Homo sapiens: one gene and its partners. The protein of the gene in region 1 interacts with the protein of each later gene in a biochemical or structural test. Each region holds a gene or a part of one and is shown in the gene's direction. Other genes may lie near its edges.

Evidence for each region. Proteins that work in one complex are often made in the same cells at the same time.
Region 2: the proteins of RHOA (region 1) and ARHGEF18 form a complex in vitro, tested with the Homo sapiens proteins (one study listed by BioGRID).
Region 3: the proteins of RHOA (region 1) and KCNA2 form a complex in vitro, tested with the Homo sapiens proteins (one study listed by BioGRID).
Region 4: the proteins of RHOA (region 1) and DEF6 form a complex in vitro, tested with the Homo sapiens proteins (one study listed by BioGRID).

What each region holds. Positions count from the first base shown.
Region 1 is NC_000003.12:49,404,467-49,410,105, reverse strand, and holds part of RHOA (transforming protein RhoA isoform 1 precursor), read left to right. Parts: intron 1-3,299; exon of another isoform or gene 3,300-3,394; intron 3,395-5,639. UniProt on the Homo sapiens protein: Small GTPase which cycles between an active GTP-bound and an inactive GDP-bound state.
Region 2 is NC_000019.10:7,463,462-7,467,436, forward strand, and holds part of ARHGEF18 (rho guanine nucleotide exchange factor 18), read left to right. Parts: exon of another isoform or gene 1-322; intron 323-356; coding exon 357-494; intron 495-1,098; coding exon 1,099-1,229; intron 1,230-3,456; coding exon 3,457-3,513; intron 3,514-3,609; coding exon 3,610-3,657; intron 3,658-3,752; coding exon 3,753-3,975. UniProt on the Homo sapiens protein: Acts as a guanine nucleotide exchange factor (GEF) for RhoA GTPases. Its activation induces formation of actin stress fibers. Also acts as a GEF for RAC1, inducing production of reactive oxygen species (ROS). Does not act as a GEF for CDC42.
Region 3 is NC_000001.11:110,597,783-110,601,757, reverse strand, and holds part of KCNA2 (potassium voltage-gated channel subfamily A member 2), read left to right. Parts: 3' UTR 1-3,975. UniProt on the Homo sapiens protein: Voltage-gated potassium channel that mediates transmembrane potassium transport in excitable membranes, primarily in the brain and the central nervous system, but also in the cardiovascular system.
Region 4 is NC_000006.12:35,314,343-35,318,317, forward strand, and holds part of DEF6 (differentially expressed in FDCP 6 homolog), read left to right. Parts: intron 1-3,548; coding exon 3,549-3,657; intron 3,658-3,830; coding exon 3,831-3,975.

The sequences.
Region 1 (5,639 bases):
AAACTGTTCATTTGCCAAAAAATTTCGGTTCATTAGCTTACACAGCACTCTCCCCTTGTTAACTGGATGGTCCTGCCTTCAATTGAGGGAGATAGATGAATGTACGAGGGTCCCTGGTTGGCCTAATCATGGCTTTGTTTGGATTTTTTTTTAAGGGACCAACTTCTAGAGCAAGGCCTACACTTTACTGCTTCAAAACCAAGATATTTAGGTCAGGCTAAGATATTTTTAGTTAACTGTGGGCACTTTTGACTGTTGATTTGGGGTACTGCGTGTATCAAGTAAACAATTCCCTGTGCACATGCATGTGGTGGTGGTGGAGTATTTTCGTAGTCCTGATTTCTTTCCATTTGTCAGTTAACTGCTTTTTAAAAGTTTATTCTGGTCATATGGGGGTGTAAGTTATTAGGAGAGTAAAAACAGGTAGCTCTTCAGGTGTTTCTTGTCCATGGGGTGGAGTCCATGCAGTGACTGGAGAAGGTGCTAGTTTGCGTCTTTTTAATTGTCTTAGAGAGCTGAGAGATATATGTTAACTCTGAGAAGAAAGACTGATCAGCTTCTAAGAGAGCTAATTTGAAGCTGCTGGCCTTCTGTAGACAGCACCTTGGGTTTAATTGCATTGTGGTTACTAGTGATTATGATAAATAGTACATAGTCACTGGATTTTAAAATTGGCCATATAGTTGTAGTTTTATATTTATTTTTATTTTTGAAATGGAGTCTCACTCTGTTGCCCAGGCTGGAGTGCAGTGGCGCGATCTCAGCTCACTGCACCGTCTGCCTCCTGGGTTCAAGTGATTCTCCTGCCTCGGCCCCTGGAGTAGCTGGGACTACAGGCACCCACCACCATTCCTGGCTAACTTTTGTATTTTTAGTAGAGATGGGGTTTCACCGTGTTGGCCAGGCTGGTCTTGAACTCCTGACCTCAGGTGATCCGCCTGCCTTGGCCTCCCAAAGTGCTGGGATTACAAGGGTGAGCCACCACGCCCACCCATATTTGTAGTTTTAAAAGGATCCTGGCAGGGCGCGGTGGTTCATGCCTGTAATCCCAGCACTTTGGGAGGCCGAGGCGGGCGGATCACGAGGTCTGGAGACCATCCTGGCTAACACGGTGAAACCCCGTCTCTACTAAAAATACAAAAAAAATTAGCTGGGTGTGGTGGCGGGCGCCTGTAGTCCCAGCTGCTCTGGAGGCTGAGGCAGGGGAATGGCGTGAACCCGAGAGGCGGAGCTTGCCGTGAGCTGAGATCGCGCCACTGTGCTCCAGCCAGGGCAACAGAGCGAGACTCCGTCTCAAAAAAAAAAAAAAAGGATCTTAAGTATTTTGTCTGACTCTGCCATTTAGTTTATTCCTTTGTTTACCTGCCCAATGGAACTGTTTGCTTGTAACTACACATTAATATAACTAAATTTTGAACTTAATGTTACATGCCTTGCTATACATGGGGCTCTTTGGGGACATGCTCATTTGTGGGATTAAAATTTCCAAGACGGTTTGAAGTTTGTAATTACTATAAAATCCCTCATCTTTAATCTGTGGAGCTGTAGTATTAAGTGAAGGCCTTGGTATGTTCATAATTACGATAGTCATGTGACTGAAAATCAGGCACTGAAGCTGCTCGTTCTGGGTGTTGGTCTCAGTTTATTGATGCTTCATCCAAATACATTTTTATAGCTAATAATAAAGAAAAACATCAAATACTCTTGCTAAATTGCAATCAGTATGCAGTTTATGCCAAACTTAGCTTGATTTTATTTTTTGAAGAGGATGAGTATGTATATTTAAGCATATGTGTGTGTGTGTATATGTATATATACTTGTGTATACGTATATACGTGTATACGTATATATATGTGTACATATACGTGTATACGTATATATATGTGTACATATACGTGTGTGTATGTGTGTGTGTATATATATATATTTTTTTTTTTTTCTCTTTTGAGACTGAGTCTCACTCTGTCGTCCGGGCCAGAGTGCAGTAGCGCCATCTCGGCTCACTGCAACCGCCGCCTCCTAGTTCAAGTGATTCTTGTGCCTCGGCCTCTGGAGTAGTTGGGAGTACCAGCATGCGCCACTGTGCTCAGCTAATTTTTGTATTTTTAGTAGAGACGGGGTTTCACCATGTTGGTCAGGCTGTTCTCGAACTCCTGGCCTTGTGATCTGCCCCCCTTGGCCTCTGAAAGTGTTGAGATTGCAGGTGAGAGCCACTATGTCTGGCCATATTTAAGCATATTTATGATAGTATCTTAAATTTAAGTGAAGGGAAAGAGGAAAACATACACAGCCAATGAAGTAAGTTTGAAGTGGAGTGAAAGGAAAAGTTGGAGGTAAAAAGAGGTTAGAGAGGTGGGCAGGGGCCAAATCATATAGGGCCTTTAGGACATGGGAAATTCTTTGGATTTGTTCTGAGATTAGAAGTCATTTAGATATTCTTTAGAAAGGGAATGACATGATCTGATATTAAAAAAAAAACTAGAATCACTGTGAGTAGGAGTAGATCTAATTCCATTCTGACTAAATAGTAAACTAATATGATAATTTGGACAAATATAAAAAGGAATTCCTGGCTGGGAGCAGTGGCTGATGCCTGTAATCCCAGCACTTTGGAAGTGCTGGGCAGGTGGATCACTTGAGGTCAGGAGTTTGAGACCAGCCTGGCCACATGGTGAAACCCTGTCTCTACTAAAAATACAAAACATTAGCTGGGCGTGGCAGCAGGCGCCTATAATCCCGGCTATTCAGGAGGCTGAGATAGGAGAATCACTTTAACCTGGGAGGCGGAGGTTGCTGTGAGCAGAGATCGAGCCATTGCACTCCAGCCTGGGAGACGGTGCAAGACTCAAAAAAAAAAAAAAAAAAAAAAAAACGGAAAGGATTTCATAATATTAATTTCCTTGACTTAGTGACTTCTGCCTATTTTATTTGAAGTCATTGGTTCTTCTCTTCTCTTCTCTTGAGACAGGGTCTCACTGTCACCCAGGCTGGAGTGCAGTGAGTGATCTTTGTTCACTTCAACCTTTGTTTCCCAGGTTCAAGCGATTCTCGTGCCTCAGTCTCTAGAGTAGCTGGGACTACAGGTGTGTGTGTGTGACCATGCCCGACTAATTTTTGTATTTTTAGTAAAGACGGGATCTCACCATGTTGGCCAGGATGGCCTTGATCTCTTGACCTCGTGACCCCGTGACCCACCCACCTTGGCCTCCCAAGGTGTTGGGATTACAAGCATGAGCCACTAAGGATTTGTTTTTAAAATTTTTTTGCTTTATTTTTTTCTTCTCTTTTTTTGTACTAGAGATGGTGTCTTGCTATGTTGCCCAGACAGATCTTGTACTCCTGGGCTCAAGTTGTCCTCCTGCCTCAGCCTCCCAAAGTGCTGGGATTAAAGATGTGAGTCAAGCGATTCTCGTGCCTCAACCTACCCACTAGCTCGATTACAGGTGCCATCCACCACCTGCCCACCACCCTTGGCTAATTTTTGTATTTTGTATTTTAGTAGAGACAAGAATTTTACCATGTCGGCCAGGCTGGTCTCAAATTCCTGACCTCAGGCAATCCACCCGCCTCAGCTTCCTGCTGGGATTACGGGCGTGAGCTACCCTGGCCAAGATTTTTAATTTCTGAAGCTTATAGCTGCTCTAAAGCACAAGGATTCAGTCCCATGATTTAAAAAAGTTGCTTGTTTTGACTTCAAGTATATGGTTGAGCATTCTAACTTTTGTTATGTATACATTTTTATTTTACTGTATTCTTCTAGCCATTGTATCCTAGTCTGTATGTTGCAGATGAGTTGTGATTCTCTGGTGTCTCTTCCATGGACCTAGAGATCATATGCTCTACTACTGGGATTTTTTTTTGTAACTTTGTTTGGGATATAGGCTTTGAGAGGTTAAGGAAGTAAATTTAAGATGGATATTTAATGTTGTAACACTTTGTTAATGCTTTTTTCTACAAGATAATTTTATTATGTGATATGGCAGCTTTGTTGGAAATACCTGTTTTTTTGTGTGTGTGGAAAATTTCTTTTCTGGATGAAATCTCTTGTTTAACTTTTCCAGTTATTCATAATGAAGCTCTGTTTATCTTTTGAAGATCTTAAGTTCAGAAACAGAAGGCAGGCTGCGTATGGTGGCTCATGCCAGTTATCCCAGCACTTTGGGAGGCCGAGGTGGGTGGGTCACCTGAGGTCAGGAGTTCGAAACCAGTCTGACCAACATGGTGAAACCCCATCTCTACTAAAAATACAAAAATCAGCCGAGTGTATTAGTGAGTGCCTGTAATCCCAGCTACTCGGAAGGCTGAAGCAGGAGAATCCCTCGAACTTGAGAGGCGCAGGTTGCAGTGAGCCAAGATTGCTGCACTCCAGCCCGGGCAACAGAGCGAAACTCCGTCTCAAACATACACACAAAAAAAAGAAGGAAAGAAAAGGCAGTAGAGTATCTTATTTAAGAGCATGGATTCTGGAGAGAAACTGACAGTTAAATACTAGCTCTGACACTTGATGGCTTGAGACCCTTGGCAGTAGTATGTCTCCTTTGTAATTCAGTTTTTTTCTTCTGTAGAAAGGGAATGGTAAGGAAGCGCCATGAGATTTCAGTGAGAGAGAAGCACTTACCTCAAGTGCCAGACATGTAGCCCTTCAACTAACTTATTTTATTTATTTATTTTTTGAGATGGAGTTTTGCTCTTGTTGCCCAGGCTGGAGTGCAATGGCGTGATCCCAGCTCACTGCAACCTCCACCTCCTGGATTCAAGTGATTCTCCTGCCTCAGCCTCCCCATTAGTTGGGGTTTACAGGCATGTCACCATGCCCAGCTAATTTTTTTTTTTTTTTTTTTTTTTTTGAGACACAGTCTCGCTCTGTCACCCAGGCTGGAGTGCAGTGGCGCGATCTCGGCTCACTGCAACCTCCGCCCTCCGAGTTCAAGCAGTTCTCCTTCCTCAGCCTCCTGAGTAGCTGAGACTACAGGTGCCCGCCACCACGCCCGGCTAGGTGTTTTTTTTTTTTGTATTTTTAGTAGAGACAGGGTTTTACCGTGTTAGCCAGGATGGTCCCGATCTCCTGACCTCAGGTGATCTGCCTGCCTCCGCCTCCCAAAGTGTTGGGATTATAGGTGTGAGCCACCGCGCCTGGCCTACTTTTTTTATTATTTTTTTTTTTGGAGACAAGAGTCTCGCTCTGTCGCCCAGGCTGGAGTGCAGTGGCGTGATCTCGGCTCACTGCAAACTCTGCCTCCCGGGTTCATGCGGTTCTCCTGCCTTAGCCTCCCAGGTAAACTGGGACTACAGGTGCATGCTGCCACGCCTGGCTAATTTTTTTTTTTTTTTGTATTTTAGTAGAGACGGGGTTTAACCATGTTGCCCAGGCTGGTCTCCATCTCCTGAGCTCAGGCAATCTGCCTGCCTTGGCCTCCCAAAGTGCTAGGATTACAGCCGTGAGCCACCGTGCCTGGCCTTCTGGCCTTTTTTTTTTTTTTTTTTTTTTTTTTTGAGACGGAGTCTTGCTCTGTTGTCTAAGCTGGAGTGTAGTGGCACAATCTCGGCTCACTGCAATCTCTGCCTACCAGGGTGCAAGCGATTCTCCTGCCTCAGCCTCCCAAGTAGCTGGGACTACAGGTGCGTGCCACCATGCCCG
Region 2 (3,975 bases), on another chromosome or scaffold:
CACACCAAGTGTTTCCTGCTGGCCCTGGGCAGGGCCACATCCAGCATTCGCCAGCCCCTGGCCCAGGGCGGCCTGGTGGAAGGAGCTGCAGGAGCCTGTACCCGCCCTCCCCATGGCTGCCCCACAGCCCTGTCCTCTCACTTAGACGCAGATTGGCCTGTCCTGGTGGCCATACCTGAAGTAAGGGTGTGCGCAGGGACAGTGGGGCTGAAATCCCACGGCACACAGAAGGGGGCAGGCGATCACCACCCCAGTGAGTCCCTCCGTCCACCCGGGTCTCGCTGCCCCAGCGCTCCGTATTCCCCCAGCACACTTCCGCAGGGCGACCCGTGCCTCCTGTCCCCTTCCTTCCACAGTCGAGGGCATCCAGAGCCTGATCTGCAGGCAGCTGGGCAGCGCCAACGGCCAGGCGGAAGACGGAGGCAGCTCCACAGGCCCGCCCAGGAGGGCTGAGACCTTCGCGGGCTACGACTGCACAAACAGCCCCACCAAGAGTAAGAGCGGGGCCGTCTCCCCTCCTGCCTCCAGGGCCGCCCCTCAGGATGCACATTAACTTGTATGGGGTTTCCTAGAACTTTCTTTTTTGTTGTTGTTGAGACAGAGTCTTGCTCTGTCACCCAGGCTGGAGTGCAGTGGCGCAATCTCAGCTCTCTGCAACCTCTGCCTCCTGGGTTCAAGTGATTCTCCCGCCTCAGCCTACCAAGTAGCTGGGACTATAAGCACACGCCACCATGCCCGGCTACTTTTTGTATTTTTAGTAGAAATGGGGTTTCACCATGTTGGCCAGGCTGGTCTCGAACTCCTGACTTCAGGTGATCCGCCCGCCTCAGCCTCCCAAAGTGCTGAGATTGCAGGTGTGAGCCACCGCACCCAGCCGATTTTCTGGAACCTTCTGAAACCCTCCAGACATCGTTGGTTGTGTTGTGACAGCAGCACCCAGACCAGCCTGCCCCTCTCCAGCAGGCGTCTGTGCTGCAGACGCCACCATTCGGGCCTAGCCTGGGTTTCCTACCTGGGCAGGGGCTGGGGGTGGACTGGGAAGCTTCCCCCTCCCCACGGGATGGCAGCATCCTCATGCCCCTGGCTTGGGGTTCTCAGATGGCAGTTTCAAGAAGAAAGTCAGCAGCACTGACCCCAGGCCCCGAGACTGGCGAGGCCCCCCAAACAGCCCGGACTTGAAGCTCAGTGACAGTGACATTCCTGGGAGCTCTGAGGAATCGCCGCAGGTGGTACGTGGATATCCATTTGCTCGGTACAGTCTGAGTCGTCATAAGGATTCATGTGTGTGAGCAGCTTCTGCTGGGGTTGTCCAGTTTTAGTCTTATTAGCATCGACAAGCATTGTTTGTTTTGTGGTGAATAACAGTATCTCAGCCCAGATTAATGCACTGGCAGGTGATTTCTTCCTGCAGCCTCCTGGGAAAAGCAAAGAGGTCCCCAAGAGGAAGGCTGGGGAGGGGACAGGCTCAGGGCACTCACCATGGCTTCATCAACAGGCGAGGAACCCCCTACAGGGACCACCAGCTTTCAGCCGGGGCAGGTGTGGTGGTGCCTACCAGATGCCAGATGTCCCCGGCTATTCCTTTGCCTTTGAATCAGAAGGCCAGGTGCCTACTCGGCCCTGCCCAGGTCAGGGGGTCAGAGGCCAAGGCCAGTTGCCTCTGATCAGTTCTGAGGCTTGGACTTGCCCCTGTGGCCAGAGCTGGCACGCAGGCCTCATAGCCAAGCCCACTCTACCTCCCAGGAGGCCCCAGCCCCTCGTTTTCCAAACACCCAGATTTGTACAAGTCAGCTGACCAGCAGGGCCTGTGTTCCCAGTCATGACCCGGTCCTGGGTCCTTCCTGTTATCCACACTAAGGGATGTATTTTCAATAATAAGCAGGGGCCGGGTGCAGTGCCTCACACCCATAATCCCAGTGTTTTGGGAGACCGAGGTGGGAGGATCACTTTTTTTTTTTTTTTTTGGAGACAAGGTCTCACTCTGTCACCCAGGCTTGAGGGCAGTGGCGTGATCACAGCTCACACAGCCTCTAACTCCTAGGCTCAAGCAATCCTCCCACCTCAGCCTCCCAAGTAGCTGAAACTACAGGTGCGCGCCCCCACACCTGACTAATTTTTTAAATGTTTGGTAGATACAGGGTCTCACTATGTTGCCCAGGCTGGTTTCCAACTCCTGGGCTCAAGCAATCCTCCTGCCTGGGCCTCCCAAAGTGTTGGGATTATAGGCAAGGCCGCCATACCTGGCCTTGGGAGGATCACTTGAGGCCATGAGTTTGAGACCAGCCTGGGCAACATAGCAAGACCACATGTCGACAAAATATTTTTAAAATAGCTGATCCTTTGGCTGGGTGCGGTGGCTCATGCCTGTAATCCCAGCACTTCAGGAGGCCGACTCGGGTGATCACTTGAGTCCAGGGTTTGAGACCAGCCTGGCCAACATGGTGAAACCCTGTCTCTACTAAAAATATAAAAATTAGCTGGACGTGGTGGTGGATACCTGTAATCCCAGCTACTCAGGAGGCTAAGGTGGGAGAATCGCTTGAACCTAGGAGGTGGAGGTTGCAGTGAGCCGAGATTGCACCACTGCACTCTAGCCTGGGCGACCAAGCAAGACTTTGTTTCAAAAAAGTTAAAAATAGCTGCTGGGTGTGGTGGCTCACGCCTGTAATCCCAGCACTTTGGGAAGCCAAGGCAGGTGGATCACCTGAGGTCAGGAATTCGAGACCAGCCTGACCAACATGGTGAAACCCCGCCTCTACCAAATATACAAAATTAGCCAGGCGTGGTGGCACATTCGAGTAATCCCAGCTATTTGGGAGGCTGAGGCAGGAGAATCACTTGAACCAGGAAGGTGGTGGTTTCAGTGAGCTGAGATCGTGCCATTGCACTCCAGCCTGGGCAACGAGCAAAACTCCATCTCAAAAAAAAAAAAAAAAAAAATTAAAAATAGCTGATCCTGGTGGTGCACACCTGTAGTCCCAGCTACTCAGGAGGCCGAGGTGGGAGGATCAGGCCACTACACTCTAGAGCAAGGCCCTGTCTCAAAAAAAAAAAAAAGAAGCCAGGCATGGTGGCTCATGCCTGTAATCCCAGCACTTTGGGAGGCCGAGGCGGGCGGATCACCTGAGGTCAGGAGTTTGCAACCAGCCTGGCCAACATGGTGAAACTCCGTTTCTACTAAAAATACACAAAATTAGCCAGGCGTGGAGGCTTGAGCCTATAATCCCAATTACTCGGGAGGTTGAGGCAGGAGAATTGCTTGAACCCGGGAGCTGGAGGGTGCAGTGAGCCAAGATCGCGCCACTGCACTCCAGCTTGGGCAACAAGAGCAGAATTCCGTCTCAAAAAAAAAAAAAAAAAAAAAAGTTAAAAAAAAAGAAGAAGAAGAAGAAGGCTTGAGTCTAGTCGGATGGGTCTTGAGCCACTCTCTCTGGTTTGACGGTGTCCTCTTCCCAGGTGGAGGCGCCAGGCACGGAATCCGATCCCCGTCTGCCCACCGTCCTGGAGTCGGAGGTAGGCGCCCGCGGGTCTCCATCTCCCCAGGGCCTTGTGCACGCGCGTGTGGCCTCAGCCCGATAACTAGCATCAATCTCCCTCTCCTCTCCGCAGCTTGTCCAGCGGATCCAGACACTGTCCCAGCTGCTCCTGAACCTTCAGGTACAGGGGCGGGGTGGGGCCGGCCACGCGTGCCCTTTCCTGGTTGGCTGGGGCGCAGGTGCGGCTCTCACTCGCCTGGCCCTGGCCCTCCGCAGGCGGTAATCGCCCACCAGGACAGCTATGTGGAGACGCAGCGGGCTGCCATCCAGGAGCGGGAGAAGCAGTTCCGGCTGCAGTCGACGCGTGGGAACCTGCTGCTGGAGCAGGAGCGGCAACGCAACTTCGAGAAGCAGCGGGAGGAGCGCGCGGCCCTGGAGAAGCTGCAGAGCCAGCTGCGGCACGAGCAGCAGCGCTGGGAGCGCGAGCGCCAGTGGCAGC
Region 3 (3,975 bases), on another chromosome or scaffold:
TCAGGAGCAAATCCACTGCTTGGTGGGTTGGCTGTCTAAGAGGCCTAATGGGTTAATTTGTCTCATTGGTAACCCCACTGGGCCTGGGTTTGCTGCCATTGCCTCAGACACTCCGGTATCCATGGATTCCTAGACGTTAGAATTGTCTTTCTGCCCTCCATGTGCTGCAGCTTCAGTTCCCATGGCTGAAGCTTGTCTTACTGAGTGCACAAGGGCCCTGTGGCCCTCACAGTTCCAGCTGTCCTGGGCCAGACCCACCCCGGGCCTCCTCTCTACAGTTCATCCTGTTCATCATCTCCATTTTCACCTCTTCCCTTGCCACTTGGATCTTATTATCATTTGGCTCTGCATCCGTCACTTTCACAAACCTTTCGCTAAAGAGCCAGAATGGATCCCCTGCTTTGAAACCAAGGACACCAAGGAGTAGGACTCCCTGGGACCAAATTCCACTGATCTGGACCTAAAGGGAGCCTCCTCTATGTGGAAATGTCTGAAGTCCGGGACTAAGTGATGGAGTCCCTAGATGATCCAAAGGCATCATTTTGATCTCCAGACCCAAACTCTCTCCCCATTAAACTGGCAACCAGAGCTGCTTTTTAAAAAGAACCAAAGGATGGGTAAAGAATCATTTCCCACCCCCCAGAAGAAGTAGAGTGCAAATGAGCACTGCACAGCCTAAAGGTAGACAGTAGGTTGACCCTGAAATGGCTTCAGGTAGGGGGCTTTTAACTCACCAGACTGGGCGTCTTTGCCTTTTGACGGAGTAGCTTAATTTTCCCAAACAGTGAATTGCAGGGGTCGGGCTATGCAGGGGTGGCTCCAGCCCAGGCCTCACTGCTGCCTAGTTAGCACCTACAGTTGTCTTGGGGCATGGGGCACCAGCTCAGGGTGCTAGGCCCAGGGTGCTCATTAGTGCCTGGTCACCCACATCCCCAGGTATCTGCAGGGCATCCCATGCCCAGCACAAAGCCTCTGTGCTTCTCTTCCTCTCCTTCATGGGAGGTGGTGCTGAATTTCCAAGGCATGGGGTGGGAGGGACACAGATCTTTGGAAAATAGAAGGTAAAGCAACCCATATCTGAGGCCTAGGTCAGGGATAGATATCTTATCACAGTGTCCTTGGCCCAGGACTCTAAAATGTTCACATACAGTCATGCACATTCACCACAAAATAGGTACACTGTTGTCACACACAAACATAAAACATGTAACGTGCAAAATACAGACAGACCAGGTTAACATAAAAGCAAACACAGAAGATATATGGTTATAATTGTATATAAAATGCACACTCTGCACAGATATAGAATTTACACAGAACATACACAAAAGACAAACATACACCACATACAAATATACAACCTGAAACTCAGATGCAAAATACATAAAAAACTACATGGACAAAATGCATATGCATATAAGATACACAAAGGCTACTTTACCATTGTTTCTACACATAAAATACACACAAACTCAGTATATACACACGATGCATTAACTTATAATAGGCATACAAGATACATAGCACACATGCCCAAAAATATCGCACAATACACATGAAATGCAGACATATACTCAGACCCATTGCCCTGCCCCCAGAGCTATGAATTAACAGGCACAAACAAAAGATCAGATGTAATCACCTTTGCCTGGCCTGTGTCTATATCCCCCAGGATCTTTCAAGGAATCTCTTTCTCTATTCTTTTCTCTCACTACCAGATTTCACTCCTGAGAAGTAACTCCTAGGTTTCAAGCAGGAGGATGGGCCACCACATCAAGCAGATATCTGACTAAGACCAGGAATTGCATGGGGTCTCTACCAATTCACCTTCCTCCCACCAGAAACCTGGGTGCAGGGTGTGAAAGTACCTGGGACAGCTGGTAGCCTAATATAGGCCTCCTTGCCATGACCCTTCCTTCCTTCCAGCAAATCCGCACAGACAACCCAATAGCCCAGGCTCCCCTTCTCCCAGCACCTGGGATCTCCAGATTCAGCCCTATTCTCTTAAAAGCAGTAATGGCTCAAGAAACTGCAGGATCTTGAGCCCAGGACCAGGGTAAAGATGTCCCCAACATTCTCTAAGCCCACAGATTTTATTGCCCTTCCATCCTTTGCAGCTTTGTTGGGGGCACGGTCAGGAAGTTGAGACCCTATAGAGACCTGTCTCTTAAAATGAGCCACCTTTACTTGCTTGTGGCATTTCACTTGCTCTTGTGCATAAGCCCAAAGGGGCCAACTCCTGATTCCCCTCTGGGTGTGTTCAATCCCGGGCACGCTCTTCCTTTTCCTCTTGTTGGGCTCCCCTGGATGCCCTGCCTCCCATCCAATTGCTATGCAACCCAGTTCAGCTTAAGTAAAAAGTGATTAAGAACATACATCTAAGGCTAAGCAAGCTAACACTTTTTAGAGGGCCTGACTTTATCCTATATTCTAAGGCCATATTTAAATACTTTCTAAGATTACCCACCATTTTGGATTACTCTTGGAGCTGGTTCTTCCCCTAAGTAGGACTAGCTGAGAGCTGAGTGCATTTTAGCAAAGGCTTCACCTACATCGGAAGTAAAGAGTTGCAGTCAGGCTTTGGATCAGGCCTCACTCCTGATTTCTGCTCCTGCAGCCATCCCGTTGTGTCTCACTCTCCCTTCCAGTGATGGTCGCAGCTCCCAGTCTCTACAGAAAAGGTAACAACAGTAGGGAGTGGACATATGGGTCCAAAACGTGTGCTTTGCTGGAAACTTGTGTTTCCAGGTCAAGGTACCATTCCTGTTGGCTTCATCAAGTGCCTCTGTGGATTCATTTTCAAGAAACTTGGAGTTTTCAGGAGACCGAAAAGGAATAGGCCCAGGAAAGGTGGAGAGATTGTCAGGAAGAGAGAGTGGCTGAGTGGGTCAAATTTCAGAGTAAACTTTTTAGGAGCCAACATTTAATTAAGAAAATAATTAAGGCTCTGTGCTTTCTGAAACTTCAGTAATATTTGACATGCTCTCTTCCTTCTTCTCTGCTTGCCTCTGTCCCTCTCACCTGTGTTTCTGAGGCTAGTGTTGGCATGTCACCATGAGGTTAGCCTTTTAAAAGGGGCCCCACGGGAGTGTGCCTCTAGATTGCGTTAGCCTAGTATGGAAAGGGCTCCCATGGAAGCTATGATGGCCTGAGACCCCAGCCTGGGTGTTCATGTTGCTGCTCCGTGTTGGGAGGGCCCAGGACTAGCTTGTTCTACCTATTCTTCCTGGATCTCTCACTATATTATAGTGAGGACTCTATCAGTATCAACCCATGTGGAGAGAGGACAGCACCCTCTGAAGCTCCTCAGGCTGGGGATTCAGCACTGCCCACAGTAGTAGAGTCACAGAGGCTGACTCCCCCCTAAGGAAACTATAGAACAGTGTGCAAATTGCATATGAAGGTGGCACCACTACCCCTATGTCAGGCAGGGGAGCACAGTGCTTTGACTTGTTTACTCAAGAGAGGGGATGATGGTGCTGAGCTCTGCTCCCCAGAGCTTTCCTGGGGCCCATTGTCATAATAACTTGTATGTGGGTGATGGCCGCCTCATCTGCGAGGGCTATAATATCCATGGTGCTCCTTGGTTGCACAATGGAGGTTCCCCTAGCCTTGGCAAGGTATCCATTGCCGGGTTTGAACTCATGACCTTAACCTCATTAACATCATCAGTCACCTGAGCCAACGCGCAGAGAGGGGGATGCTGGGAGCTCTCTCAGTAGCTATTGTGACCATCATCTATATCTTCAGACTTAGCCCTTGTTGAGTCCAACCCTGTTCCCCTATCAAAGCAACCAGCAGGGACAGATGGAGGTAGGGGCTCCCCTACATGCAGGAAGGTTCTCTTCCTCAAACTAACCTAGTTTACTTTTCCTTTTTTTCTGCTTCCCTTCCCACCAAATCTCAGCTTCATCTCTCATAGTTTGTGTTTGAATATTTTTAAAGAGGAAAAGTGCAATAAAATAAATAGTGACT
Region 4 (3,975 bases), on another chromosome or scaffold:
GTTGCAGTGAGTCAAGATTGCACCATTGCACTTCAGCCTGGGTGACAGGAGTGAAACTCTATCTCAAAAAAAAAAAAAAAAAAAAGATGTTCTCTATTTTTTTTGTAAAAAGCCATTTTAACTGGGATGAAATGATATCTCATTTAATTTTGATTTGCTTTTCTCTGATGATTAGTGACATTGAGCATTTTTTCATATCTCTGTTGACCATTTGTATGTCTTCTTTTGAGAAATATCTATTCAGATCTTTTGCCCATTTTTAAACTGGATTATTTGGTTTTTTGTTACAGAGTTGTTTGAGCTCCTTATATATTCTGGTTATTAATCCCTCGTCAGATTGATACTTTGCAAATATTTTCTCCTATTCTGTGGGTTGTCTCTTCACTTTGTTGATTGTTTCCATGGCTGTCCTGAAGCTTTTTAGCTTGACATAATCCCATTTTTCTATTTTTGGTTTGGTTGCCTATGCTTTTGAGGTCTTCCACAAAAAATCTCTTTGCCCAGACCAATGTCCTGGAATATTTCTCCAATGTTTTCTTCTAGTAGTTTCATAGTTTCAGGTCTTACATTTAAATGTTTAATCCATTTTTATTTGATTTTTTTATATGGTGAGAGATAGGGGTCTAGTTTCATTCATCTGCATGTGGTTATTTAGTTTTCCCAGAACCATTTATTGAAAGGACTGTTCTTTCCCCATTGTGTGTTCCTGGAGCCTTTGTCAAAAATGAGTTCTCTGTAAATGCATGGATTTATATCTAGGTTATCTATTCTGTTCCATTGGTCTTTGTGTCTCTTTTTATGCCAGTACTATGCTGATTTGGTTACTATAGCTTTGTACTACATTTTGTTTTTTTGTTTTATTTTAGAGACAGGATTTTTCTCTGGTGTCCAGGCTGGAGTGCAGTGGTATGATCATAGGTCACTGCAGCCTCAGTCTCCTTGGGCTCATGGGATCCTCCTGCTTCAGCCTCCTGAATAGCTGGGGCTATAGGTGTGTACCACCGTGGCCAGTTCGTAGTGTATTTTGAAGTCAGGAAATGTGATGCCTCCAGCTTCGTTCTTTTTACTCAGGCTTACTTTGGCTATTTGAGGTCTTTTGTAGTTCCGTATAAATTTTAGGATTTTTTTTCTATATCTATGAAGAATGCCTTTGCTATTTTGACAGAGATTGCACCAAATCTATAAATTGCTTTGGGTAATATTGTTATTTTAACAATATTAATTTTTCCAATACATAGCATGGGATATCTCTCCATTTTTTTGCATCCTCTTCAATTTATTTCATCAGTTTTATAGTTTTTCTTGTATAGATCTTTCACTTTGGTTACATCGATTCTTAGGTATTTTACATTCTTTGTAGCTGTTGGAAATGGGATTGCACTCAACTTCTTTTTCAGATTGTTTGCTGTTAGCGTATACAAATGCTACTGGGTTTTGTATGTTGAATTATCCTGCAACTTTACTGAATTCATTCATCAACTCTAACGGTTTTTTGTTGGAGTCCCTTTTTTTTTTTTTTTTTTTTTTGAGGAGGAGGAGGAGTCTTGCTTTTATCGCCCAGGCTGGAGTGCAATGGCACGATCTCAGCTCACTGCAACCTCCGCCTCCCGAGTTCAAGTGATTCTCCTGCCTCAGCCTCCCAAGTTAGCTGGGATTACAGGCACCTGCCACCACACCTGGCTAATTTTTTTTTTTTTTGTATTTTTAGTAGAGACAGCATTTCACCGTGTTGGCCAGGCTGGTCTCAAACTCCTGACCTCAGATGATCTGCCCACCTCGGCCTCCCAAAGTGCTGGGATTACAGGTATAAGCCACTGTGCCCGGCCTTTTTTTTTTTTTTAAGAGAGAGACAGGATCTCACTGTATTGCCCAGGCTGGTGTCGAACTCCTGGCCTCAAGCAATCCAACCACCTCAGCTTCCCAAAGTGTTAGGATTACAAGTGTAAGCCACCACGCCCCATGGAGTCTTTAGATTTTTCTAAGTAGAAGACCATGCCATCTGCAAACAAGGCTAATCTGACTTCTTCATTTCCAGTTTGGATGCCCTTCATTTCCTTCTCTTGCCTAATTGCTCTGGCCAGAACTCCCAATACTACATGGAATAAAAGTGGTAAAAGTGGGCATCCTTGTCTTGTTCCAGATCTTAGAGGAAAGGCTTTCAATTTTTCTCCATTTATTACAATGTTAGCTGTGAGTTTGTCATAGATAGCGTTTATTATTTTAAGGTATGTTGCCTCTATACCCAATATTTTAGGGCTTTTATAACACGATGTTGAATTTTTTTAGAAAGCTTTTTCAGGGTCTATTGAAATGATCATATATGGTTTTTGCTCTTGGTTCTGTTACTATGATGTGTCATGCATATTGATTTGTGCATGTTGAACCATCCTTGCATCCCTGGGATGAATCCCATCTGATCATGGTGAAAGATCTATACTCACAATATTGTACAACCATCACCACTATCTATTTCCAAAACTTTTTCATCACACCAAACAGAAACTCTGTACCTACCAAGCAATAACTCCTCATACTCCCTGACCCCAGCTCCTAGTATCCTCTATTCTGCTTTCTGTCTCCATGAATTTGCCTTTTCTAGGTATCTTACATAAATAGAATCATAAAATATTTGTCCCTTTGTGTCTGGTTTCTTTTACTTAGAAATGTTTTCAGGCTTCATCTATGTTGTCAAATATATCAGAATTTCATTCCTTTTTAAGGCTGGATAATATCCCTAACAGTGTGTGAGGATCTCAGTTTCTCCATTTCCTTACCAACAGTTGTTTTTCCTTTTAAAAAATTATCATAGCCATCCTAGGATCTGTCTAATTTTGTCACATAAGGTGTTACTGTGGAAAGGAGCACGGATCTACGCAGAAGTCCAAGCCTCATCACTAACAGACTAACAGTGTGAGGTGGACAATCCTGGAGCTCTTAGTGCCTCAGTTTCTTTCTCTGTAAAGTGGAGCTAATAATGCCTGCCTGGCAAAGCTGTATAGGTGGAGTGAAGATAATGATGCATATAAAATACTAGTACAGACTCTAGAATGTGGTAGCTATTATTTTCCACAGAATGTAAACTTAATGGAGGCAGAGATTTGGTCTGTTAGGCACACCTTAGTATCCCAACCCCTGGAGCAGTGAGTGGCACTCAGTAGGCACTCCAAAAACATCTGCGGAATGAATGAATGAACTCTTAACAAGCAGGGCTATGTGGAAGTGAGTTGTCATGGATAGTGAGGACCCTGTTACTGGCAGTGTTCAAGCGTGATCTGCATAAACACTGAGTGGCGATTATGTACTGGGCCCCGTGGAATAATAGCAAGATGGAAACGCACCCACCTAGCCTTCAAAGAGCAAAGGCTACAGAGTTGTGGGGACTTAAGTCCCCCATAACTTATGATGCAAGCCATGCAGGCTCCTGGCAGAGTGGGGTCCCCAGGGAAGATAGCCAGGAGGGCTAGGGGCTTGAGCTGGAGCACCCTTGGGGCAGGTGGGGCCCTGACCCAGTGAGGCCAGCCTGGCTGCGGCCACCTACCCTGTGCCAGGTGCTGCCAGACCGCGACGGAAAGCGCTGCATGTTCTGTGTGAAGACAGCCAACCGCACGTATGAGATGAGCGCCTCAGACACGCGCCAGCGCCAGGAGTGGACAGCTGGTGAGTGCTCGCTAGGTGGCTTGGGTCTGGGTGGTCCTTAGGCGCCTCATCTGTGAAAAGGGGGTGATAATACTTTGTCCAGCGGGAGGTTGGAGAGTGGACTCGGGAAACTCCTAAGGCCCCTTTCGGGCCGTGTGCGAGGATCCTACTGACCCGCTCCCGCTCTTCGGCAGCCATCCAGATGGCGATCCGGCTGCAGGCCGAGGGGAAGACGTCCCTACACAAGGACCTGAAGCAGAAACGGCGCGAGCAGCGGGAGCAGCGGGAGCGGCGCCGGGCGGCCAAGGAAGAGGAGCTGCTGCGGCTGCAGCAGCTGCA